Homo sapiens: one gene and its partners. The protein of the gene in region 4 interacts with the protein of the main gene of each other region in a biochemical or structural test. Each region holds a gene or a part of one and is shown on either strand. Other genes may lie near its edges.

Region 1 (7,028 bases), on a different chromosome or scaffold from region 4:
TGTATAAAGACCCAAAGGAAGGTAAGTTTTGAGGAAGTGCTTGGGGAAGTGATATAGTGGCTGGAAAAGTACTACTGGTGTCCAGTCTATTCCAAATGACTGTGCAATCTTGGACTACCCACTTCCTCTGTAGATTTCTGTTTCCTCATCTCTACAATCAGAAGATTGATCTGAACAGAGGGTCTGTCAATGGACTTCCCATTAAGCTCTTTGATGTGCGTATGTGAGTGCGCATTTTTCTGAAGCTAAGAGGGTCTATAGCTTCTATTAGCCCGTGAAAAGGGTCGGAGACACAAAACTGATTAATTGCCTGTGTACTAATTTAATCTGAGGTCCCTCTTAACTTGTGAAATCTTACGAAGCTATAAATAGAATTAAAATTTTAGATGGAAACCAGGAATTAATATAATTATTATCCCTAATAAGATTATTTGAAAAGCATATTTTGTACAAAGGGGTACCACCATGACCAACCATGCATTCAAACATTAGCTGAAGAACTTCACTAGAAGCCCAGTAAGGATTTGCCATCATTAGCATCCATTGCACCAGACACTAGACATGTAAGTACATGTAGTAAATCTAAATATATCACAGATATTTTTGTTCTGCCTTTTTATTATCAGAGTTTTAATGGGCTATCAAGGTAAGGCTGCTACTTAGGATTACATGAAGTGGAAACAACCCAGAATAGTTTGCCAGCAAATAAAACTTCTTTCTCACAATTTTCAAGATATTCATCCAAAATCATTTTGATTGTAACTTTTGGATAGCTGAATAGCACTGTTCTTATACTAAGCATATGATTATAAAAGACCCAGAAATGAAAGTTGTTGTGCTTACTCACTTCCTTCCCTCCTTAATTTAATAAATGTTTGTTAATTGTCTACTGTAAGTTGGAAACTCTCCCAGACACTTGTGAAATATCAATGAACAAAATAAATATATTTCACTCTCATGGTGCCTACATTCTAGAAGGGAGAAATAAAATAAAAATCATACATTAAAGTAAGCACATTATGTATTATATTTAAAGGTGAATAACACTTTGGCAAAGAAAGGAAAAAGAAAGAAAAGGAAAGAAGGAAGGAAGGAAGCAAGAAAGAAAAAAGAGAAAGAAAGAAAGGGAGGAAGGAAGGGAGGGAGAGAGGGAGGAAGGAAGGAAGGGAGAAAGGAAGGAAGGAAGGGAAAAGAAAGAAAGGAAAGAGAGAAAGAAGGAAAGAAAGAAAGAAAAAGAAAAAGAAAGAAAGAAGGAAAAAAAGTAGGGAGACTGGGAATACCAGAGGTGAGAAGAATGGCTCCAATTTTATATAGATTAGGGCAGGCCTCCCCAAGAACGTGTCAGGGCAAGGGTATGCTTGATTTATTCAAGAAATAGCAAGGAGGTCATTGTGGCAGGGAAAAAGCAAAAATTATTTTGCTGTTGTAGTGGTGATGTTTGTGAAACTTCAACGTTGTTGACACCTCATACTGTATTAGTTCCATATTTAAAATGAAAGTTATAATATCTTTGGTATAATCTTATTCGTGTCCCATGTTTGTCAAAAAAATTCAGTCAAAATTCTTCTCAGAATTTTAAAATCTACCTCAAAACTATATCTCTGGTTGGTATGTATTTTAAGTCTCTCATTTCCCACAAATATGTATTTGGCAATGAACTGTTATGTAATATGCAGATATGCCATTTAATAAGAGATGATGTCACTATAAAGAAATAAGTAAAAGAACTTTATTTTGGAAATTAGGAAATTAGGCACAAAGGGATTTGTTACTCCAAGGAAGAGAAATTCCAAGACTTACAATTAACATGAAAGCCCTCATTCTTTCTGAAATGTCACTGTTCCTTTGGCATTTTACTACATTTTTTGTTTCATTAACTTTCTTCCAGAAATTGAAACAATCATAATAATTATAAAATTTGCATGGCATTTATCTGGGTTAATGCCTGAAACAAGCAAGACCAATATAAAGGTAGCACTTTTTCACAAGGGGAGGGTCAGGTAGCCGTTCCCCACAGTAAGTATCTTGCTCCTGCCTCCAGGCCTCACATGAAAATGAACCGTAATCTCACCAGCTTATAAATGTAACACAAAACGTACACAGCCATACCTTGCCCAACTGGTCCTTTTTGACAAAGCCAGTGGCTGCTGCAATGCTCCCTGCTCCCTCCACTGTCTTCTGGGCTACTGCTGTCACACCCGTCACCACTGCTCCTCCAACATTTGTCACTTGCTCTTTGGTCTTCTCAGCCACTGGTACAAATAAAGAGCAACAACAGATTAAAGGGTGGTAGAATAACAGTGACTTAAAATCATTCCACTTCCACTAGCCATCGGCTTCCATACACCTGTATCTACACATGCCATAGATAACTGAGTGGTCAGAAGAAACAAAAGCCACCAAGATGTCCAAGTGAGTGTGGTTCAACCAAACATTGAATCTTGGCTAAGATATTTTGGCTAAAGTCATGCAGTATTAAAAAGTGCTTCAAGTTTAACGATCAGGAATGTAAAGCCATGAGTGATTTGGATTTGGTTTATACTATGGAAAGTTTACAGAAAGCAATTCTTACAGGTGCAGTTATATTTGAACCAGACTCAGCATGAATATTTCTTTATTTCAATTCAGTGCCAATCCTTTGATCTCACTCAGCAAGTTAATTTCCACCACACCTTCTAAGCAACACAATACATACTTCTATTTATTTATTTATTTGAGATGGAGTTTCATTCTTGTTGTTCAGGCTGGAATGCAATGGCACAATCTCAGCTCACAGCAACCTCCGCCTCCTGAGTTCAAGCTATTCTCCTGCCTCAGTCTCCCGAGTAGCTGGGATTACAGGTGCCCACAACCACACCTGGCTAATTATTATTATTATTATTATTTGTATTTTTAGTAGAAACAGGGTTTCATCATGTTGGCCAGGCCGGTCTCGAACTCCTAACCTCAGGTGATCCACCCGCCTTAGCCTCCCAAAGTGCTAGGATTATAGGCATGATCCACCGCACCCAGCCCCTACTTATTATCTACGTGTTCAGACGTGGTATTATCACATATGTACGAATAACAGCATAAGAAACGGTTGTGAAGGAACTTGGATCTTTTTATAGAACTTCAGGTAGTGAAACAAAGGGTTCTTAAAAAGCTAAATTTGCAGTAATTTTAATAGGAGCACAGGAGCTAGACAGTATGAAAATGAAGAGGCTATTGAGCACCCTTACAATTTCTTTTCATAAAACAAAATGAGATACGGTCATTCAGTAGATTTATTAAAATAAGTTAACATTTTTGAGAAGACAGTGTAAATAGTTTGAATTGAGTTTACAAGCAGAAGTTTAATTTCATGTCAAAAACTTTCTTGTTCAGTTAAATAAGCCAGAAACAGAAAGGCAAACAACCACATGATCTCACTCATGTGGAATCTAAAGAAAAAGAAAAGTTGATATCATAGAAGCAGAGAGGAGAACAGTGGAGGAGAGTGGAGGATGGGGACACTCATCTAAGGAAATGAAGGCACATTTTCTTGACATGCTTTGTACTCCCCAGATAAGCCTCAGTCTGAGAGGAGTTACACCATGTCAGCTGTTTAGTGCTATTCACATGACTATTGTATAGGTTTCATCTCACCAGTTGAAGAAGCCAATATTTACTTATTTATTTATTTATTTATTTATTTTGAGACGGAGTCTTGCTCTGTCACCCAGGCTGGAGTGCAGTGGCACGATGTCGGCTCACTGCAAACTCCGACTCCCGGGTTCAGGCCATTCTCCTGCCTCAGCCTCCCCAGCAGCTGGGACTACAGGTGCGCGCCACCACACCCGGCTAATTTTTTTATATTTTTAGTAGAGACAGGGTTTCACCGTGTTAGCCAGGATGGTCTCGATCTCCTGACCTCGTGATCTGCCCGCCTCAGCCTCCCAAAGTGCTGGGATAACAGGCGTGAGCCACCGCGCCTGGCCTGAAGCCAATATTTAAATGGTGTGGACAAAGCAATTTGTTTTCAAATAGACTATGTAAGCTAAGGGGGTCTGTAAGGACAAGAGGCTTTCTCCTTAGTACAGGCAATGTGGGCAAGCCTGACATAGCCACACAGCCCAAGACCAGAAACGGTCCACAGTAGTGTTGCTCCCTATTTGTCTTTTAGGCTAGAATTTTGTACAACTACCTAACAACTCCGTGCCACTTCTAAGGATATGGCTGATGTCTCCTTAAGAGCAAGAGCTATTTACAATTCAAAGTTCGATTTAAATGCCAGCGAAAAGCTGTACTGAAAATCTTATGTTTTAAAACATTTCTGAAATGTTGATCCTTTAAAAATAGTCAATTATGTGTTTCAAGTTGTCATTTTTTTCCTTTTCAAGGACGTGAATTGAAAATTTTGCTTGAAACGAACATTTTCTTGTTATAAAATCTCAAAGCGAGATTAAAAATAGGTTTTGAATTTTTTACAGATCCAGCCATAAATTTTATAATATCTAGATAGCCTTTTATATATGTATAAATTTTAATCTAGTTTTAATGCAATACACTGCACAGTAAAATGTACTCTACACATTATTATAATTTTGTTGTTTTATTATTATAATCATAAATAAAATGGCTACATTACAAAATGACAGAGTGTACATGTAGCAATAATCGACACATTTAAAAACATTTCTGTAGAACTGATTTCTCTAGTAGGGTCTCTGCTGACCTTTAACCTCTATTTTTCCCCTTGAGGGCCTTTCACACTATCTCTCTACTCACTGACATTCCAAATGACGGGTGACAAAACAAAAGGAAAAGAGACACACTCATATTAGTACATTTTGGGTCTAATAAATGGTAACTGTTTTTCGGCAATTGAGTTCTTTGAAATCAGGGATTCTGCTTTATTTTTCTTTATATTATTTCATAGTAGATAATAAATAATTTAGAATATACTAAAATGAATTTAGTGTCTACCTCTAATGTCTGCATTAATATAAATAATAGGTTTATATTTGACTTTAGCTACTTTAAAAATAAAATTCCAAAAAGGAAATGTGATACCAACTTTTAGAATAGATATAGCCAAATCTAACCTTTGACATTAAACAAAATTATAAAATTAATATATGGTTTTGAATTGTTATACAAGTAAATATGTATATTTAAATATACATATGTAAATATGGATTTAAAGAAAATAAATTTGAAACAATTTACTAAGGAAATTTAAATCATAATATGTTGAAAATTAGTTTTGTTCATTATGATGTAATAAATTTATAAGAATCAAAACCTTCAGAAAATCTCCAGTGTTAGAAATTTCTTTATACTATACTTGCATGAAAAATAGGTAACTTTATATCATAGTTTATTTTTAAAGTACCTGAAAAAACATATCATTCAGTAAGTTTAATTAAACACATTTTCATATATTTCTATAATATGATGCATTAAGTTGATAACTGAAATAATTTCCTGAGATCAAACAGCCAGGATTTAAGTTGGTGGATTTTTCATTGATATTATCTAACTAGGATAATTTATTTTATTTGAACTTTGTAGGTAGAAAGTTCCCAGCCCAAGTTTACTGAAGTCTGTATTTCTCCCCTGCCCCACCGAAAAAAAAAAAGCTAATGGGATGAATTTAGGGGAAATTGTTTCTTTAATATTAGAAGATAATATTAGGTACTATGTAATAATTTCTTGTTTCCCTGCATTAAGACTTGTAGCAAGAACAATTAACAATTAGTTAGCACTTAATATGTACCCATAATAAACATTTTACATCAGGCATAATATGCAAATTATTCTCCCTCTCTTTAACCATTGAAGTGTAATTATCTTATTTCTTCTCATAATTAGACTTAAGCACTTTATATTAAATAACCCTATTCAAAAAGTTAATTCATTTATCTGATGTGGGAGAGGAATGATTATGATAGCAGCCGATTTATCCCAATGTGTTTCTCATAGCCATACTAGTTATGACAGCATTTTTGGTTATTTCACTACTGCCAGGGTGGTCCATGGGTGCAATCGCTGTAAATATTGCACATGCTGAAATCACCATGTCCTTACTGCCTAGCAACATTTCCCATAGTTTTCTGTGGAACACTAGTTTCATTCAACCCTAGTAACTAATGAAGAAAGTTTTCAATAATCAAAAAGTTTGAATAACCCTGATTTTAACTATGTAATGCAAATTTCTTTACTGTAGGACATCTCAGATTCCTTAATACGCTAAAGAGAAAATAAAGTATACAAAGTCTCCCAACATTGTACAATGTTAGAAACTTAAGATTGTGAGCCACTGTCCTTCAGAAAACATTTTATAAAATGTCTAATTGTACAAACTTCAGTCTCTCTCTCTCTCTCACACACACGCACACACACACACACACACACACACACACAGATATGTGTTTACATTTTGGCATTCTGGAAAAGACTAAAAAAATGCAGCCCATCTCCACAGTCTCCATTAGATCATCAGGTGACAGTAATAGTTGGGTTCTTTAATTTTTACCACTGACTCCAGAACTTGCCACATGCTTGTCTGCTTTCTAAACCTCATGGGTTCTTCCTCAACTACTAAATGGAACACCATTCATCTAGGTTGACCGTCTTCAGATAGTGGAGTCTCCACCTGTCTGTTATCTAGTTCTTATTATAATCATGCTTCACAATATCATATTTATAGGAGGTCCCTAGAAGGCATCATAGTCCACTTACTTAACTACTTCTCTGTTGGATTGCAACAGAGCCCATTAAAGGTGCACAATTAACTTCTAACAGAACTAGTTTCAAAGGAGTCTGTTTTATTTTTACACTCTGATTTTTAAATCAAAAGTATTCATTTAAAGAAATATTTTTCTCCACTAGTTGTAAAAATGTTGCACAAGAAAGTTCACTATAAAACTATAAGTAACACTTATAAAATACATATTGTTTGCTTTTGTTTTCCAGATGTTTTGTGTACATTAATTCACTGAATTATTTTATAGATGAGGAAGCTAAATCACACAGAGGTGAAGAATCTTGCAAAAAACACACAG
Region 2 (5,160 bases), on a different chromosome or scaffold from region 4:
TGGTCTTGGACCTCCCATATATGTGATGCCCTCAGGACCACCTCTTGTTATTTTTGGGACCTCCTTCAGGGAAGCTATAAAGAGCAGGCACTCCAAGAAGTACCAGAGCCCTCTAGTGGCTCTGGTCCTGAGGTAGCAGTACTAGCCCATTCGTCCTTGGTAGTTTGTTCCTTTCTCTCAGTGGGCTAGACCAGTTCTTGGATTAGTCACATAAGCAATTGAGAATCTCAGCTATAGCCCTTGAGTATGTTACCTTACAACAAAATTAGCAAGGTTAGGGGCTAAACATCAAGGACTTCCTAACCTTGAGGAAGGACAGAAATCTCCTCTGGAAATTTCTCAGGGAGGCTTTCCTCTGGTTAAGGTAAAAGAAAGCCAAACCTGCCTAAAGATAAATGGATACAGATTACTTATAACCCACTAAGTTCAGGATCTTGCTAGCCAGATTCCTTACCTCATAATAAAGGTTCTTCCAGGCCTTATTTAATAATAGGCTCAAGCATTGTTAATAAAAACATTTATTTTGCATTTTATACAGAACAACCTGAAGTCTCCATCATGACTTGACAGTTACCCAGGGGTTTACAGTGTGTCCAACTCAACAGTGTGGTTCTGGGACTGGGTATCCACACAAACACAGGCAGGAGTTTGGAGGAAAGATGGGGGCACAGCAGGAGTGTATCTTAATCCTTTCTCAAAGAAAAAGAAGTAGAGCATTCTGAGTTGCTGAAAACCTGTGCAAATGGGGCTTCTGAAACATTGTACTGTGAGCTCTCAGGGAAAGGGAGGAAAAAGATGTTGATAAATAAGGAGGCAATTTCTTGAGGCAGGGGACGAGGAGGGAGGCTTACTATTTTTAATGCCCTCAGCCCCAGTACCTGATAATCAGAGGAGACCATGTCCAATCTTGAATCAATTCCCTGTTCAAAAAGAGGTGCTAATACCCCGGGGACAAGACTCTGAAAATATCATGCTGGTCATTCCGGAGTTCTATGCCCCACAGCATATTAAAAGATGGGGGTTGGTGGGGGGTGGGGAGGTCAGAAGGTAGTGGCTTGTATTCTGTGGAAGTAAAAAACTTAGTTCACATTAAGCACTGATAAAACCCAATGACTGGGCCCACAGATCTGTTGAGAGGTCTCTAGTAGGGACCAAGAGGGGGAGGTCCAGAACATCCTCTGCCTGAGGTGCAACAGGTGTAGAAAGTCTGGGAGGAGGTGAGTATTAAAGTAATGGGAAACAGAACACTCCCAGACCTTAATTTTAATTGGATAGTTTTAAAAAAAAAATCAAACATTGGGTGCCAGTCACAACAAATGCCATGCCTTTATGGTCACTTGGTAGTATAAAAAAATTGCCAAAGCATGTCCAGCTAACCAACAGGTCTTGCTAGGAGGTGTTTGTGTGCATGGGAGAGGGCCAAGGGGCTTGGTACAGCTGACTATCCAACATGATTCCTATGGAAACAGAAGGGGCAGAGTCCTGGTTTGCTGGCTTATTGAGGGCTTGGCAGAGAAGCTAAAGCTCCAAAGTGACTACAGATTCTCTGCAACCGGCTTTGACCCATGGAAACAGGAGCCAGATTCTCACTCTAGAGATAGTGAGGGGGCCAAACCTACTCATACCACATGCATTAGTCCTGGTCATCCTCCAGGACCATGCGTATGATGGGCAACTCATACCAGGCAGGGGAAGGGAGCTGATTAGGGAAGAAGGGACCATTTTTCATCTTTTAAAGTCTTAATTTATATTTTAACCTCAAACATATTATCAGTGCCTCAGATATAATTTAATCTTAAGTCTTTAAAGGCCCCCTGAAACAAAAGTATACTTTTTATTTAGGCTTCCTCACTTTCTGGTAGTCACTTTCACCCAGTCTCCAGTTTTACCCTGACTTAGAGTCCACAAACTTCATCAGACCCTCTGTGCTCATGGACTTGGGCCTTTCTAGAGGGAAGCCTAAGGCTCGGCTCCAGATGAGCTGTGCCAGTACACCCAATGCTCGTGACACCCCAAACAGGACCGTGTAGTAATTCATCTCCGTCATGCCATAATACTGTAAGGTAGAAGAGAAAAATATTTCATTTAAGGCAGAGGCAGTGGCATGTACAAGTCCTAGGTGATAGAAACCTTAAAAGCTAAATTTTCCATTTTTCTCCAAGGACTTAGCCCAGTCAACCTTAAATAGAAATGACACTGAGAAAAGTATAGCAATTGGGATTCTGAAAACAGAGCAACCCCAACCCCCAACCCTCTCATAGTCAACTTTATCAAAATGCTCTGTGAGGGAAGTCCCTGCTCTGACTAGGAGTTAATTGACTTTGTGCATGGCAGATAACAATAGGGTTTGGTACAAATTAGAGGGAAAAGAGGGAAAGGAGGACTTACCTGGAGCAGCACCCCACTGTGAGCATCTACATTGGGCCAAGGATTCTTGGCTTTACCCTGCTCTAAGAGGACATTGGGCACAATCTTGTACAGCTGAGCAACCAACTTAAACATGGGGTCATTAGGCAGGTGTTTCAGAGCAAACTCTCGCTGACAGGTATATCGCGGATCAGTCTTCCTTAGTACTGCATGGCCATAGCCTGGAACAACCTGTAAAGAGTGAGGAAAAAAGATAGTATTCTCAGTAGAAATTCTTTTATTTTTCGAGACAGGATCTCACTCTGTCACCCAGGCTGGAGTGCAGTGGCATGATCACATCTCACGGCAGCCTCGACCTCCCAGGCTCAGGCAATTCTCCCACTTCAGCCTCCAGAGTAGCTGGGACCACAGGTGCACACCAACACATCTGGCTTTTTTTTTTTTTTTTTTGGTAAAGATGGGGTCTGGCCGTGTGCGGTGGCTCATGCCTGTAATCCCAGCACTTTGGGAGGCTGAGGTGGGCAGATCACCTGAGGTTGGGAGTCCTAGACTAGCCTGACCAACTGACCAACTCGGAGAAACCCCGTCTCTACTAAAAATACAAAATTAGCCGGGCATGGTGGCGCATGCCTGTAATCCCAGCTACTCGAGAGGATGAGGCAGGAGAATCACTTGAACCCGAGAGGCGGAGGTTGCAGTGAACTGAGGTTGCGCCACTGCATTCTAGCCTGGGCAACAAGAGCAAGACTGTCTTTAAAAAAAAAAAAAAAAAAAAGATAGGGTCTGTGTTGCTCAGGCTGGTCTCAAACTCCTGGGCTCACGAGATCCATCCACCCTGGACTCCCAAAGTGCTAAGATTATAAGCGTGAGCCACCACACTCAACCTATTTAAAACTGTTTTTTAGAGAATGGGGTCTTGCTGTGTTGTCCTGGCTGGAGTGTAGTGGCTATTCACAGGAGTGATCTTAGCACACTGCAGCCTTAAACTCCTGGCCTCAAGCAATCCTCTTGCCTCAGCCTCCCAAGTAGGTGGGACTACAGGTGCATGCCATTGTGCCCACCTAGAAATTCTTTTCTAAATTCTTCAAGGTAGATAAATGAAGAAAAAAAAATCTCTAATTTAGGGACCTCTTTCATTCTTTTCTTAATTCTTCCAAATTGCAGAACTTGTGTCTTGGTTTCTTTCCTAGTCGTTAAGCATCTCTGCTTACCCGTCCTGAGTTGAGTGTGTTCCAGATGTAGTCTCGTAACTTCTCATCTGACACATCTTTGCCAACTTCCTTCTGCAGCTGTGTTAGCCAGACAAGCACTTCCTATGGGTAAGGTTTGGGGAAAAAGGGAATGTTAATACATATGCCAGAAGAGAATGCCAAGATCAGAAACAAAGCATGGGGTAAGGAAAACATGTAGCAGGAAAATAAAAAGAATAGTCTTACCTGATTTGCCAGTCCATGGAGAGGCCCTGCCAGCCCGTTCATGGCTGCTGCAAAGGACAGGTAAGGGTCGGAAAGGGCACTGCCCACCAAATGGCTGGTATGGGCACTTACATTGCCACCCTCATGGTCACTGTGGGGAAGTAAGAAGGGAGAGCCAAGGGAAGAAAGAAGGGGCAGATTATGGAAACTTTGCTGTTCTCTTATTTGCCACTTACTAGCCTAGTTATGGGCTCATGCCAGCCTATAGCCAGTCAGTTATACCTAAACTCTTGTAAAAGACATCCTAATCTTGGCCAGGCACAGTGGCTCACGCCTATAATCCTAGCACTTTGGGAGGCCAAGGCGGGTGGATCATGAGGTCAAGAGATCAAGACCATCCTGGCCAACATGGTGAAACCCCGTCTCTGCTAAAAATACAAAAATTAGCTGGGCATGGTGGCACACATCTGTAGTCCTAGCTACTTGGGAGGCTGAGGCAGCAGAATCACTTGAACCTGGAGGTGCAGGTTGCAGTGAGCCAAGATTGCGCCATTGCACTCCAACCTGGCGACAGAGCAAGACTCCATCTAAAAAAAAAAAAAAAAAAAAGCATCCTAATCTCATTACCAGCTTTTGTTCACTCATCCACAGAGCTGGAGAGGTTACTGGTTGATGATGCCTGTATGCTCTGCTCCATGACTCCAACCTAGCTTTAATAGCAATGGCCCCAAAGAGCGAGCTCCTGGAAAGCTGAAGGACCATCTAATGTGAGCAGCTAGTACCTTTTCCCAGCCAGAAGCACCATCTTGTTCTTAGCATGGTTACAGTAATTTCTTTAGGCCTCCTGACCTTGCTTACTAGACCCCTTTCTTGCCTTGGATCATCCTTTATGCCACGTTTCTGTCTTCTTGCTGCCTATCATCTGTTCTCAGAAGATGAGAACATAAAGGAGCTTTTAAAAAAATTTCCCACCAATTGAGGCACCTAGTGGCTGTGGTTGCTGGGTCTAGCTTACCTGTGGATGGTGAGGTACAGGCGCGTGAGCTCAGTGAACTGATGATCAGTATAGCCTAACATGTTGGTGAAATTGTGAGACCAGTCCAGGTTAGAGTCAATGGCCCCAATACCGCTGCCTTCTCTGTAGAGATTTCGGTAGATCTTTGCTGCAACACAAGGTAGCTTTGCGATTAGATCCATAGAGTCTTCATAAATCAACTGACAGAAGAGGAGCAAGATGGAGAAAAAAAAAGGAATTATCAGCAAAGAAGAATTAGGCAGGGATATCGTCTGTCCTCCATGAATTGGGGCTATTTGGGTTGATGGTTAGTTATATGATGGGTTGTTATATATTGAGTATGTTTGAAAGTAGAGAATAACA
Region 3 (7,028 bases), about 42 Mb from region 4:
GCTCTGGTGAGCAGAGGCCCTGGATTGTTTGTCGCGCTGGATGGAGGGAGATTTGCTCCCTCACGGCCACCATGCAGTACCTTGGGCATTGGTGTGGACGGCTCAGCCTGCCTGTGTCCCGTTACTCTGGCCTCGTCCTTCAGGCCAGGCAGCCTGTGGCCACTCCATGCTGAAAGGGGTTTACCTTGGCCACAGGGCCGCCTCCTTTCTCCACCCACCTCCAGCCCTTCTTGTGTCCTTAAGGAGCCTGAGCTGCAGAGGCCCCCTCCTGGCCTCTCCCAGGCTGGGCCACCTGCCAGAGGCGCCTCCAGGGGCGGGGAGAGCTGTCGGCCTGCCTGCACCACGTGCTCTGGGCAGCCGAGTGCAGGGGTGTCCAGCAGAGGAGCTCGGCTGCCTGAGGCCCTGCCAGGGGTGCCGGCAGCCAGCCGGGCTCAGCTGAGCCCTGAGGGGGCGCTTCAGAGCACTCTCAGCTTGGGCCGCCACCGTGGGCAGCAGAAGCACCCAGTCCTCACTTCCCCTGGCATGGCCCCAGAGGCCCCTCCCTGACATGGCCTTGGCCCCAGAACCCAGTGGGGACAGACTCGCACATACACAGGGTGCCGCCTCCTGCTGTCCCCAGCCCTGCCTCTGACCCCCCTGTGACCGCCTCCTTCCCTGGCCCAGGAGGCCTGGTTACCTTCATGGGGGAGCATGGCCCCATCCCACCCAGCTCTGCTGTGGCCCACCTTTGGTCAAGCCTCAGTTGTCACATCTGTTTGGGGGCTCACTCTGGGTGACCTAGGCCACAAGGCCCACGGGGCATCAAAGAGGCAGTAGCATCTTCTCCCCTCCCCAGAGGGCAGAGCCCCCCAAGCCTACTTCAGAGCTCCCTTCTGACACCGGTAGCCCGCAGCCGGTATTCCAGAATGGGTTCTGGTTTAGGCGTGAGGCCTCCCCCACCTCCTCCACCTGCTTGGGGCATGAACCCCTCCCCCACGTTTCCAAGCGAGTCCCCAAGGTGGGCAGATGAAGATGCCAAGGATGTCGACCAGTCTGGATGGGTCTGGGGTGGGGGGGCATGCGGCAGACAGGGAGGCATTCTCTGGCTGGTGCTCCTCAGAGGAGAGAGGCCTCCGGAGACTCCAGACAGCCTTTTATGGAGCTGAAAGTGGCTTCAGAGAAATGCAAAGTTTCCTGGAGAGAACGTGGGGCGTGGTTCTTGCACAGCCTCCCTACAGGGTGGCTCCAGCAGTGGAGCTCCCCTCCCAGGACCCCTGGGTGCTAGTGGGAGGCAGTGGGCAGGTGCAGATTCTCGTCCTTCCCACTACTGCACACCCTTTGTCTGCGAAGGCGCCCCCAGCGGTGGGTGAAGGAGGAGGGACACTTGGGGACCCAGCTGTGCACGTGCTCTCAGTGACTGTGGAGTCCACTCCAGGGTGGGTCCCGAGGGAGGGGCAGGAGACCAGGGGACCCACCCCTGCAAAGTGCTCCGGGTCCTGACCCGTGGCCACCCCATGGAACGTAACTGAGCAGCCAGTGCCTTGTTCCTGCTGGACATCTGTGGAGACAAGAGTGACTTACGGCTGCTTAAAGTCAGAAACAGGTTGAAGGAGGTGGAGGCGTGGGAAAGAGTCTAGGAAGGTGTTTTTGCCCTCCACGTGGCAAAGGTTACATTTAAAGGTGATGCTGGGTGTTCTCCCTGCACTAGGCATTCCTGGCCCCAGGTCCCCAGCAGGTGTGCACATGCTGCATACACTCACGCATGGGGGTTTCAGGGCAGGTGCGCCCTTGGCTCCGTGGGAGGCCAGGTGAGGAACGTCCAGTGCCAAGGAGCTTCCGGGACAGCTGTCACTTCCCTTTACAACCAGGCAGCGGATAGGGTCAAATCCTGGAGCTTTGGTGTCTAATTCTGGGTGGCTCCTAATCTAAGCACAGACAGCACCACACACTGGGGTGGGGGCACGAGCTTCTGAAACAACGTGGCCCCAGTGACTCCACGCTGTGTGTGCCCCTGGAGACGGGGGGGTGCACAAGGTGCGGAGCCAGCTAGAACCTGTCGCTCCCTGCAGAAGCGGTTTCTGTGTGCGGTTCTGATTTGCCTCAATGAGAAGGTTTTCATTCATGGCTCCCGGCTCTCAGACTGGGTGGAACTGCTCCCATTTAAAGGGGAAAAGAGGTGGCTCGGCTCGTTAAGGATTTCTTTTTCTAAGTTGTTACGGCGCCCAGCAGCCGGCTTTGTCTCCCCTTCAGGGTGGCTGCCTTTCTTCCCGGCCCCTCGCCGGCGGCCCTCTCTTTAACAAGGCCGAAGTTGTTTATTCTCTCGGGATGAAGTCTCGGATGGGCCGCCACACCCCTGGCGGCCCGTGGGGGCCCCTCTCCCTTTGTGCCTGGGTCGGCTCCCATTCAGCTCCCCCGACCCCCCTTGTTCCCGGGCGCTCAGTGGCGCGAGATGAGGCGATGGGGCCGACAAAGATGCCACACTCATCCCTGCCGACGTCCGGCTCCCAGCCCAGGGCCCCTGGTTCCTGTGCAGAATTCCTCGTGGGTGTGACAAAAGGCTGCCCCCAGGCTCCGCTGGGGTGGGGGCCAGGCCAAGAGGCACATCCCACACTGGCCCACCTGTCCACGGTAGGCGCATGACTGCCCTGAGGAGGGGAGGCCGGCATTCCCCGCCACAAACCAGGACGTAATTGGTGGCAGGGCTCTCTGTGGAAAGAGCCAGTCTGCTGTTTGTCTAGGAGGTCAGTCACAGAGGCCCCGAGACGCCCACTACTGCAGCCTGGCAGGCGGATGAGCCCAGTATCTGGCAGTGACCAGAGGGAGTTTTGTGCAGACCACAAAGGCTGATGGGCCGCCCTAGATTGGTGTCCCTCTTGGAAGTGGGCCCAGATGTGCGGGACAGTCCCCAGGAAGCCCCAGGTGAGGGCACTGGTGCCCTCTTGGGAAAGCTGCTCCCTCCTGGGGCCCGGCTCCCGGCCCAGTCCTCCAGGGGTGTCCCATGGTGACTGGTGCTAGGAACCCCACACCTCTTCCCTTACTTGGGAAGTCACTGGAATTGTTGGGCTACATCAGACGGCCCAGAAAAGTGTTTTTGTCATCGGCCAGAAATAGGAGAGTTGTGAGTAGAGGGCCCGGGTGGAGTTGGGGTGTACTTGGTCTGTGCTCTGAAGGTCACTGTGACAGTCATGGTCCCATGGTAAGGGGCATGGGTTGCTGGAAGAGCTCTTCCTTCCCGAGTGAGCCAAGCCGGGCTCTCCTGGCGCCAGGGCCTGAGCCGCAGCCACACCACAGCCGCCCTGAAGGCTGCCGGCCAGGGCTTACCCCTCAAGGGACACGGAATGGCTTCATCAGTACCCTGCAGCCCCGTGGCCTGGCCCGGGTGGAGGCCTAGGCTTCAGCCATGCGATGTCCCTTCAGAATATGACTTGTCTGCAATCCCTGCTGCTGGGGGGTGGCAGGTACTTGGGGTGAGGGTTAGGGTCATAGAAGCGACATCTCTACGTCCTCATATTTGCGTCATCTAATTTTGTTTTTGTGAATACGTGATAACATTCACAAGGCTCAAGATGCTAAAAGGATGAGAAGGCAGTGATGTCCCCATCACCTGTCCTGTGTCTTCCCGTGGCTTTCTCTTTCCTTGGTTATGTTTGAGTCAACAGTGGGGCTGACGTTCCAGGAGGGTCCGTGGGCCAGGCTCTTGCTCTCCGAGTGCCCAGGGATGGCTGGAGGCTGAGGAGGGCCTGGATGTGGAGCCTCAGATACCGAGTGCTTCCCTTCAGGCCGGGCCGCTTGCTCAGAGCCAGCACACAGGGATGCCCGGATCACGGGGGCCCTGAGAGGGTCCCCTGCTCACAGCCTCCTTCCCTCTCTCCTTCTGCCTCAGATGTGAAGTTCATTTCCAATCCGCCCTCCATGGTGGCAGCGGGGAGCGTGGTGGCCGCAGTGCAAGGCCTGAACCTGAGGAGCCCCAACAACTTCCTGTCCTACTACCGCCTCACACGCTTCCTCTCCAGAGTGATCAAGTGTGACCCGGTAAGTGAGGGTGATGTCCCAGGCAGCCTTGCCGGGGCTTACAGGGGGAGACACCTAGTGCCACGGAAATGCCGAGGCTGGTGCCAAGGCCCCCAAGGGTGACAAGGTTGGGGCTGGGGCTGGGCCCCTCGGACCCCAGGCCACAGACTGACAGGGCACCGGCTTCTTCCACTGCTCCTAGAACTTACTGACTGGCTGGGAGGTCCTCACAGCCTTCTCACGTCCCCTGGGGCTTCCAGGAGCCGTAGAGTTTCTGGGCGAAGCGTCCGGGACGGAGGCCCCAGGCGGCCCCAGCCAATGGTCTGTGTGGTGATGGTGTGTGGGGTTAGGCCCAGGCGAGCTTTGTTTGGGCCACAATGTGCGTGGCCAATAAATAGATGCTTGAAAAGGGCTCCTGTGAGGTCCGAGACACCGGACAACGGGCGGATAGAGACAGCCTTGTTGTTTACGGCCTCTTTGAGAGGCTGCTGCTGTTAAACCCTGGGATGACTGTGTCTTTCTTCTTAAAAATGCCATTGTTTTATTCCCGAGTCTTTTCTTAAAGAAAGAATTAAAATGACAATCAAAAGGGTTTGTGGCATTTACCAAATTAGACCAGAGAGGTGGCCGGGTCAGCCGCCGGCCCCGCGGTGTGTGAGGGAGTGACCGCCTGACCCCAGCTTGGGGCTGGGTGGGCCTGCAAGACCCGTTTTGGCTCTGGCCTGGGCCGCCTCTTGGTGGTCTGCCCTCGAGCCTCCCGGGGACTCCGCACGGGTCTCAGCAGATGCTATCTAGGGTCCACCTGCCTGTCCCCTGCCTAGTGGTGCCTCTGTCCCGGGGACACTGGGAGTAGCGGCTGCCCAGCCCATGTGTGTCTCGGAAGAGGAAGAAGCTTTTTTGCCGTGGGACACCGAAGTTGGCAGGGGCCTCCCTTCTGTGTTCTCGGCCATGGCCTCCCTTGCACCCTGCCCCGTGTTATCCTTTGGGGGTGGTGAGGTGTCCTCACCCGCTGTAGGGTGGAGGCCAGCAGCCCGCAGCTCTCTCAGGAAAATGGCTCAGAAACACCATCGAGGCCTCCAGAAGCCCAGCAAAGAGAAAGCCCCTCCATCAAAATGAAACTCGCGTCTGCACTTTTCATTTCGAACTCCACGCCCTGAGTGAAAACCGCTTCCCCGCCAGGGGTGACTGCCCTGGGATGTTGCTGTCTTCGGGCAGTTGTGGGAAGTTGGGCGCTGGCCCTTATTTGAGTAGAGACCATCTTAACTAGATTGGAGGCACACGTCTCACAGCTGACAGACACACGGGGTGAAGTTACCCGAGGCGGAGTCCACTCTGCCTGATCAGCTAGTGACCAACGTAGCTGAGCCCAGACTCAGAAAAACCGTCCACAGCAGAGGCCCCTGCATTTTCTAGGGCGTGTTCTAGAATTTTCTTTGGTGGGTGGAATGTCCATCTGTGCAAATCGGGTGCGCAGTGCCACACACCAGTGACTTTTCGCGGAGGAGCGTGCTGCCTTTTTGGAGCTTCTGGCTGTGGGAGAACAGCTTTGTCCACCGGGGTAGCCTTGCAGGCAGCTGTGGGGCCAGAGGAATGAAGGAAGGTCCTGGAGTCTAGCTGCATGTGTGACCCTGGAGTGGGTCATGGGCGAGGGACGGGCCGCAGGTGAAGAATCCCTGGATGGAGCTGCCAGGCCCCTGGGGCTGAGAATTGAAGCTGGCTGGTGTTTTAGGTTGAACGTCAGGAGTCTTGTATCTCACCCCAGGCCTCTGGCCTCAGTTTCCCCATCTGTACAGTGGGACTGTTTGTGCAGCCAGCCCGGCCAGCTTCATTTGCCATGATGAGAATTTATCTGAGGGGCGGGAGAGGAAAGCCCTCCCTATAAAGGTACAGGCGCTAAAATGTCGTGACCTCAGTGGTCCACCTAAAAGTCGTTCTGGCCTGGGTCATCGCCTGTCGTGCTATGCCTTTGTCCAGCCCCTTCTGGTTGGGAGTTAAGTGGCACCTGTGCGGCACGTGGTGGGGCTGTGGCCCAGCCCTGCTCCTTGTGGAAGGTCTGTTTCCTGGGCTGCCTAGAGACTTGGCTTGAAGCCCTAGCGTGGCTTCCTGGCAGTTGGGACACACACAGCCCCAACACATGGAGCCGGTTCTCCATCCAGAAGCCCCCGGGCAGTAAGCAGCCACTTCAGGCTGCGTGGGACTTGCCCGTGGTGGAGCCTAGGAGAGGCCCCTGGCTGGGCGTGGCGTTCCAGATTTCACGGCTGCTCTTTCCCACTGACAGTGTGGTGTGGACGCTGCCAAGGGAGTCTGGAGCCCCAGAGGGTGGAGGTGCAGGACTTCCAGGAGCGTCCGTCGCACTCCACCCGAGGGCGAGCACCTCAGTGGCCGCAGTGGGTGGATGCATGCTGTGCCAGGCTGATGGCTGGCCCCGGGGCACAGGCCTGAGCGGGAGAGGATGGAGGGGAGGGATCAATGGTCCAGGTCCCCCTGGCCACCCAGCATTCATCCTCAGTCATGCACGGCCCAAGGCTTCGACAGCCATTGATCATGGAAGGCCAGGTTCACCTCAAGGGCTGCCACATGGAGAGGTTAAGTCTGAAAAGGCTGAAAAGGCAGGGTTCAAAGGGCCTCCTGTCCAGATCAGATGGCACTGAATTCCCCAGGGAGCTGGCACGGCCAGTGGGAACAGGCGGTGAAGGCGCTGTTGGACATGGGGACGGGCAGGGGGTGTGCAGGGTGGGCGGGCAAGCATCTGGTGTCTTGTGGCTCCAGAGACCAGGTGGGAGGTGGAGGCATTTGGTCCTGAGTGTCCTGACAGGTGATGGCAGCTCCCACATCTCGCTCAGGTTCAGAGGAGGCAGCATGGGCCGAGGGACAGTTTTTGGCTTAGTCTTGCTCTTATAAAGGCTTCCGGGTCATGGCACCTGGGAAGGGGCCCTCGCTGCAGGCCCCTTCTAAGGACCCCCTCTTCCCACCTCTCCCCACCCTCTCTCTCTCAGGACTGCCTCCGGGCCTGCCAGGAGCAGATCGAAGCCCTGCTG
Region 4 (7,857 bases):
CAAAAGGCAGTATGTTCAAAATAAAGTTATCTGGGTAATATGTGATGTGGAAAGTGCTGTATGATATGGTTGAAAGAACAAGGCATGGCTGGGTGTGGTGGCTCACGCCTGTAACCCCAATGTGTTGGGAGGCCGAGGTGGGCAGATTGCTTGAGGCCAGAAGTTCAAGACTAGCCTGGACAACATGGCGAAACCCAGTCTCTACAAAAAATTAGCCAGGTGTTGTGGCGCATGCCTGTAGCCTCAGTTACTCAGGAGGTTGAGGTGGGAGGATTGCTTGAGCCCAGGAGGAGGAGGTTGCAGTGAGGGGAGATGACACCACTGTACACCCAGCCTCGGTGACAGAGAGAGACTTTGTCTTAAAAAAAAAAAAAAGAACTAGGCATGTTTAGCTGGGAAAGGGAAGCCTCAGGAAGACAGGATGGTTATCTTTAAATATCAGAAGGATTTTCAGTGAAAAAACCATTGTGTTTGTTTTCCAGAGAAGTTACTGAAATGCAGATTTTGATTCAACAAAAGGAGGAATTTATAACGGTTAAGTCAGTTAAGACCAAAAAGAAAATGGAAGGCCAGGTACAGAGGCTCACACCTGTAATCCCAGTACTGTGGCAGACCAAGGATAGAGGATTGCTTGAGTCCAGGAGTTCAAGACCAGCCTGGACAACAAGGCGAGACCTCATCTCCAGAAAAAGTAAAAAATTAGCCAGGCGTGGTGGCACACACCTGTAGTCCCAGCTACTCAGGAGGCTGAGGCAGGAGGATTGCTTGAGCAAGGGAGGTTGAGGCTGCAGTGAGCCATGATCATGCCACTGCACTCCATCCTGAGCAACAGAACAAGACCCTGTCTAAAAAAGAAAAGAAAGAACATGGAAACGACTACCGTGAGAAGTTCTAAGTTGTCTGTTATTCAGAATGTCCCCGAATAAGTTGATTAATAACTTTAAAAGCATTTGAATGGAGAGGGGATTTGGACTAAATCAGAAGTTTTCAAATTTCTTATAGCTAGGAAACCCTTTCCTTTAAATAAAGCTCAGTTACAAAACATATCAATGTGAAGCTATTTTGGTTGAAGTCTAAGTAGAATCCTTTTCTTATTATTTTTCTTCTCAACTAGATTCTGGAAAGTTGACAATAAAAGCTAATAGTTTTTATAATTTATATTTACAATGTATATCCCCCAAGGTGTATTACATGAGGTTTGATAAATATTTACTGAATGAATGAATGAACAGTTAAATATGTCAAATGTTATTTCTCTGGGGCATGCTTTCATTTTTAATAGACAGCAATCTTTTAACCAAAAGTCGAATTCCTCAAGTGAGTTCTGTTATCCTGGAGGTCCACAGATCCCTAAGGGGGGTATGTGAATGGGTCTTAAGAGTTGTGGGAACCTATTCAAATTGTATTGCCAAATTTGGGAGCATATGTATTTTTCTGGTAAGAGCAGCTATAGCTTTTGTCAGATTTTCAGAAGGGTCTATAACTCCCAAAAGTTAAGAAACAACCACTTAATTTAATTCAATTCAATTTAATTTTTTTGAGGCAGGGTCTCACTCTGTCACCCAGGCTGGAGTGCAGTGGCGCAATCTCAGCTCACTGCAGCTTCAACCTCCCTAGCTCATCCTCCCACCTCAGCCTCCCAAGTAGCTGGGACTACAGGCATGCACCACCATGCCTGGCTAATTTTTATTTTTTTGTAGAGACAAGGTTGCACTCTATTGCCCAGGCTGGTCTCTTACTCTTGGGCTCAAGTGATCCTCCTGCCTCGGCCTCCCAAAGTACTGGGATTACAGGTGTGAGCTGCTGCACCCAGCCAAGAAACAACTGCTTTAATGGAAGAATTGTAGGTATCTACCACAGCCTAATGAAATATGTATTTGGAGGCAGGAAGGTCTTTTGGACACTTCCCCCAAATCATGTAGCTGGATGTTCTCTTGATTGCAGAGAATAACTGAGGGGACAGACCTCAGGCTTTCCTGAATACACCGTACCCCCAGAGGATGGGAAGGTAATGGGGTTCCGTGATAATTGGAGAGGCTTTGTGTCTGTGCCCTGTGTATGCATACTCAGGCTCTCAAAATCAGTGACCATTTAAGTGGACAGACCTTAGTACATGAAAACAAAGTATTCACTCCAGGACTTTAGGCAACTCTCACCAGCCAAAAACCATTTTCCCAGCCCCTACCCAAAAAGGGCCAGACAGTCTGGAGACCCTTGTTTTTGTGTCTCTAATCACCAGCTCAGACAGTGCCCTCTGGGCTGTTTGGATGGCATATCCCTTTTCCCTCCCAGGATCACTCTCTCTTTTGTTGCATTGTGAGAAAATTATGGCTAGGAATTTGATCTGGAGCCAGAGTCAGCTTCCGGGTGTGATCTCAGCATCCAAGTGCGAGCTCAGGGTCCTATGACGTTGGGCACATCAAACTGAGGAGCTTTTTGTCTAGCTGGCTGTGACCTCCTCCCTCCCTCCCCATCCCAGCTTCCCGGCCACAGAATAGGGAGCAGTACAAACAAGGCCCTGAGATTTGGGTTTATTCAGCTCCACCCAAAACTAAACCAAGGCTATGACATGTCCCATGGGACCAAACCATACATTGTGGACCATGCACCTTTCCCTTCCCCCAAGGATGCTGCTACCTCTGGAGTGGTGGGCAGCTGCCCATATCACCTTGGGAGGTAGAGAGGGATTTGCTGGGTGCTGGGTCTGTGGCAATCAGGGCTCAACTATGGCTGCCTCCTCCTCTTCCTCTGGATCAGGAGGCGCAGGGAGCAGGGAGATGTAGACCTCATTGACCTCTGTGTCCAAATGTCGGCCACCCCGAGGTGCTTCCAGGTTTAAGATGCCATCATGGGAGAGAGCAGCTCGGACTCGCCAGGGGTCGACATCAGCAGGCAGGACATAGGTGCGGCAGAACTCTCGGGACACGAAGCCGTGGCGGTCCAGGCGCTGGGGGTGCCGGGCAGACACCTCCAGCAGGTTATCCACAGTCCTCACAGTCACCTCGTCTGGGGTAAAGTGGCTCACATCCAGAAATGCCTGGAACTTGCCCTCACTGAGCCTAAGCTCGGAGGCCCCTGCCCTGCTGCCCTCCCCAGCTGGGGCGGCCCGAGGCCGGACATAGTAGCCATGGTAGAGTGTGGGGGTCAGGATCTCTTCTGGCAGGAGGCCTAAAGGGCAGAGAGAAGGCAAGAGGCAGGATGAGGGAGGATGAGGCTGGCACAGGGGCGAAATGGGAAATCTGGAGAGGAGGGATTGGGAAGAGCAAGAGGGGAGTCAGGAGGAGTAGGGAACGGGAGGGAGGCCACACTGTAGCTAGGAGGAGAAGGCAGCTCGGAAGAGGGGAAAGAGAACGGAAAGGAAAGGGAGGAGGAGGAGGAGAAGGAGGAGGAGGGGGAGGAGGAGGAGGCACCAAACGGCCTGGGTGGATAGAAGGGGGACAAGGAGGCACACCCAGGCCGGCAAAGAGCAGGTATCAGCACTGCAAGCACCAAGTGTGTCTTGAGGTCAGCAGGAATGGGAAAGATCTCTGCTTGGAGGGGATGAGGGGTAGTCTGGGGTGGGGGGTGGCTGGTCCCAGGAGATCAGTTAAGCCCAGAGTGGGGTGGAGGCCAGCAACGTTGGGAGGTCAGCCCAGAATTTCAGGGGGTGGGGGTGGGGGGCAAGGGGGTGGTGTCTGTGCCATACCTTCTCCGAAGCGCTGCTCACCCAGGCGGCTCGGGTTGGCAAATTCGTACTCGGCGGTGGCCGGGTGGGCATGTGGCACTGAGCGGCCCGACATGGCTGCAGATGCAGCAGAAGCCCTGGTCCGAGGTGCAGCCCCAACAGGCGCAGCGCGACCCCTCCAGCTGCCCGGAGAGCCAGGGCTCGATAGGAGGTGGGGGCGGGGTCGACACCACCCAAAATAGTGCCGAGCCTCTTGGGGGGGGAGGGGCTGGGAGTGGGGGCCCTGAGTGAGAGCAACGAGGGTGTGACCAGCGCCGCCCGGACCCCTAGTCCCCTCCCCCGCACACTCTTCAGCTGTCGCAGGGGGCCTGAGAGGACAGCTGAGGGTCCTGGCTGGGAACGAGCTGGGGAGGGGGAGCTGGTGGTGCCTGGGGCATGAAGAGGCCTCGCTGAGACCCTCACAAACGGTTTGCACGTTTCCACACCTCATTTTCTCCTCTTCGGTGGCAGGCACTGTGCACCCAATTCCTAAAGCACTCCTGGATTTAATGTTCTGAGAGCCACATAGAACGAAAGATGCAAGAAATCTGTTTGCTCTTTTTTCAGGGGGTGGGGTCTTTCTGCCCAGATGTGGGATCCTCTCCTAAACCCAGGTCAACCCAGGGCACGAGGCAGATGGCTGGTGCTGACATGTTGACCATCACTGCTCTCTTCCAAGGACTCACAAAGAGTTAATGTCCCTGGGGCTCAGCCTAGGAAGATTCCAGTCCCTGCCCAGGCCCAAGATAGTTGCTGGCCTGATTCCCCTGGCATTCAGGACTGGAAAGGAGGAGGAGGGGCACACTACGCCGGCTCCCATCCTCCCCCCACCCCGCGTGCCTGCTTGGGATTCCTGACTCTGTACCAGCTTCAGAGAACAGGGGTGGGGGTGGGTGCCATTGGGTGTGGACAGAAAGCTAGTGAAACAAGACCATGACAAGTCACTGGCCGGCTCAGACGTGTTTGTGTCTCTCTTTTCTTAGCTCAGTGAGTACTGGGTATGTGTCACATTGCCAAATCCCGGATCACAAGTCTCCATGAACTGCTGGTGAGCTAGGATAATAAAACCCCTGACATCACCATTCCAGAAGCTTCACAAGACTGCATATATAAGGGGCTGGCTGTAGCTGCAGCTGAAGGAGCTGACCAGCCAGCTGACCCCTCACACTCACCTAGCCACCATGGACATCGCCATCCACCACCCCTGGATCCGCCGCCCCTTCTTTCCTTTCCACTCCCCCAGCCGCCTCTTTGACCAGTTCTTCGGAGAGCACCTGTTGGAGTCTGATCTTTTCCCGACGTCTACTTCCCTGAGTCCCTTCTACCTTCGGCCACCCTCCTTCCTGCGGGCACCCAGCTGGTTTGACACTGGACTCTCAGAGGTGAGTCTCCCCACAGCTAGGACGGGAGAGTCCTTACTGGAACCTCCTGGAAACTTCTCCATCCATTTTCCTTTCCTACCCTGCCTAAACCATTTTAGGCACATGTGTGTCCAAATGTGAAGAAAAATGAGGAGGTTGCTAGTGCCTTCCTCCCCCATCACCTGTTTCTATTTGATAGTCCTCTGTATCCCATTTATTACATTTTTTCATGCACTGTCAAGTTTATCCTCCGTCCCCTAACTTCTCTACAGGATACCCCTTTCTGGTTTGGTTCATGACAATCTGCAGGGAAAGAGCTGCCTTCAAACTCCTTTGCTTATCTCTTCCAACACCTTGGACTCTTGACCGATTTTACCATCTCAGGTTTCAGAGCCAGGAGAGAGCCCTGCCTCATCCTGAGCTGTTCATCCCCATGGGTATTTTCTGCCTTTCTATTCCCTCTTCTATGATTTTCTGGGTTTCTCAGGGCTACGACAGGGCGCTGGCCTGGGTCCAATCAAGCCCTACGAGGAAACAATATAGGGACGCCCATTTGTCCTAAGAGGGTGGAAGAACAGGGTGAACAAATAAGGTTGACAGAGCTGTCACAGATAACACTCTGGTTTAAAAATATTCAAGTGTGAGTAAACAGGAGCTGAGTGGGCAAGGGCTTTGGAAGGACAAGCAGGACCAGCAGAACATTCCAGATTGGGTGGGTGGAAAACTGGCAAAGAGACCTGAGCCAGAAGAAGAGGCCTTTGTCTCACAGACAAACCACAAAGCCAGGCATTGGAGTCAGAGAGGCAGCAGATGCCAGGCTTGCACCCATCCTTGCGACTGGTCCCCTGGGTGATCTGTCTTCTTCTCTGTCCCTGTAAATAAAGTTTGGGTCTGATCACCATGAGCCTTAGGTATCACTGTGGTGGCTCCCTGAAGCAGACAGCTATGTTTATTTAAAAAGGAGATTTTTTAAGCAGAGAAGAGAAGGATGAATTACCCGGACAGAAAGCAGCTCTGCAGAATAAGACAGCACCTGTGTAATCAGTATTTTTGCCCTCTTTCTCCCATCCCATTCCCTTACCTTGCTATTTCTAGATGCGCCTGGAGAAGGACAGGTTCTCTGTCAACCTGGATGTGAAGCACTTCTCCCCAGAGGAACTCAAAGTTAAGGTGTTGGGAGATGTGATTGAGGTGCATGGAAAACATGAAGAGCGCCAGGTATGTAGCTTGTTTTTTTGTTTTCTGCTCATTCATTCAGTGCATACTGTAATAGTCCAGGTAGTGCTATCAGCTTTGGAGGCTGGCTACATTCCAGTCCCAAGCCATAACAGTCGGGATCAGGGGTTACAAATCAATGTCTAGAAGACTAAGTTAGGATAGACATATTGCTGTTGTTACTATTATGGCCAGAGATGTGGCCTTTGATTTGATCGCCTTAGATGGGATGATGGGATGCTGATGCCCCATTTAAGCCAGTGGTTCTGAATCTGGGCCACATTAGAATCACCAGGGGAACTTTCAAAAAACCTAATGCTCGGGCATACTCCAGACCAATTAGCATATGTGCTGCCGAAGCGAGCACTACTCCAGACCAATTAAATCAGCATTTTTAAGGGTGGGACCCAGGCATCAGCAATTTTTAAGGTAATTCTAATCTACAGTCAAGGTTGAGAACCACTGATTAGGTATAGGGCTGTCAGACACCTAGTTGCTTTGCATAATTACATTAACTACAGGTACCCTAAAAGCACTTGAGTTGTGACTTCTCTTTTAGCTGTGCAAGAATCCGTGTCTCTTCTTTAGCCCATCTTAATGCTGAACTACTTGGTTTGTCTAAATTTCAGAGCTGTGCTCAGTCTTTAATCCCCTACAGCCCATGTGGTAATCAGTTAACGAGAGCCTGTTTGGCTACATGCTTGAGAGTCAGCAGGCATACGGGTTAAGGTCATCTACTCTTTGGGGGAGTTCTGACAAATGGAACAGCTTGTTATGACTTTATAAGAGGGCTTTAAAATTGCTTCTCACCATTTAACGATAGCTCAGAACCTGTGCGTCAACCAGTACAGTTTGTCCTCAGTAATGTCCTCAGGCTGTTTCAATTTTGCTTATATGATTTAGGTTTGGGTCATAGTCTCCTTGGATGGAGTCATTTTTTTTTTTTTTTAATTTCAGCAGCAGTCCTATTGTTCTGGAACCTTCTGGGACATTCCTGAAGAGTCAGGACAATTTCAGGGCTTCCTCAGGGACTCAGATTCTAAATGAGATTCCAAATTCTGTAGGCCCAGCCAACATTGATCTAAACCTTTGGGAAATACCCCTAAACATATCTATGCCTCAGGGTTTGAAAAACAATGAAGTGTTGGACTGTTTCAGACTTCTCAGATTCTCACTGGTAGGAGTGACTACCTAGGCAATTTCATCTTAGCTGCAACCCTGAAACGAAGCTCTATTTATTTTTCCTATGTTGTCATGGCATTTGGTCTCACCTAAGGGGAAATCAGGATGCCTGAGTTCTGGGCAGGTGATAATAGTTCCTGTTCTTATCTCTCTGCCTCTTTCCTCATTCTTTTGGGTTAGGATGAACATGGTTTCATCTCCAGGGAGTTCCACAGGAAATACCGGATCCCAGCTGATGTAGACCCTCTCACCATTACTTCATCCCTGTCATCTGATGGGGTCCTCACTGTGAATGGACCAAGGAAACAGGTCTCTGGCCCTGAGCGCACCATTCCCATCACCCGTGAAGAGAAGCCTGCTGTCACCGCAGCCCCCAAGAAATAGATGCCCTTTCTT

What was found.
Region 1: the proteins of CRYAB (region 4) and SNCA form a complex in vitro, tested with the Homo sapiens proteins (4 studies listed by BioGRID, with this or other methods).
Region 2: the proteins of CRYAB (region 4) and CS form a complex in vitro, tested with the Homo sapiens proteins (3 studies listed by BioGRID).
Region 3: of the proteins of CRYAB (region 4) and CCND1, one has a biochemical effect on the other in vitro, tested with the Homo sapiens proteins (2 studies listed by BioGRID, with this or other methods).

What each region holds. Positions count from the first base shown.
Region 1 is NC_000004.12:89,820,137-89,827,164, forward strand, and holds part of SNCA (alpha-synuclein), read right to left. Parts: intron 2,253-7,028; coding exon 2,110-2,252; intron 1-2,109. UniProt on the Homo sapiens protein: Neuronal protein that plays several roles in synaptic activity such as regulation of synaptic vesicle trafficking and subsequent neurotransmitter release.
Region 2 is NC_000012.12:56,271,199-56,276,358, forward strand, and holds the end of CS (citrate synthase, mitochondrial precursor), read right to left. Parts: intron 4,998-5,160; coding exon 4,798-4,997; intron 3,934-4,797; coding exon 3,804-3,933; intron 3,681-3,803; coding exon 3,579-3,680; intron 2,599-3,578; coding exon 2,389-2,598; intron 2,057-2,388; coding exon 1,886-2,056; 3' UTR 501-1,885; downstream 1-500. UniProt on the Homo sapiens protein: Key enzyme of the Krebs tricarboxylic acid cycle which catalyzes the synthesis of citrate from acetyl coenzyme A and oxaloacetate.
Region 3 is NC_000011.10:69,644,132-69,651,159, forward strand, and holds part of CCND1 (G1/S-specific cyclin-D1), read left to right. Parts: intron 1-3,862; coding exon 3,863-4,011; intron 4,012-6,986; coding exon 6,987-7,028. UniProt on the Homo sapiens protein: Regulatory component of the cyclin D1-CDK4 (DC) complex that phosphorylates and inhibits members of the retinoblastoma (RB) protein family including RB1 and regulates the cell-cycle during G(1)/S transition.
Region 4 is NC_000011.10:111,908,752-111,916,608, reverse strand, and holds the start of CRYAB (alpha-crystallin B chain), read left to right. Parts: upstream 1-4,838; 5' UTR 4,839-4,884; coding exon 4,885-5,085; intron 5,086-5,855; exon of another isoform or gene 5,856-6,159; coding exon 6,160-6,282; intron 6,283-7,641; coding exon 7,642-7,845; 3' UTR 7,846-7,857. Other genes in the region: HSPB2 (heat shock protein beta-2), read right to left, coding at 2,714-3,168, 3,686-3,779. UniProt on the Homo sapiens protein: May contribute to the transparency and refractive index of the lens. Has chaperone-like activity, preventing aggregation of various proteins under a wide range of stress conditions.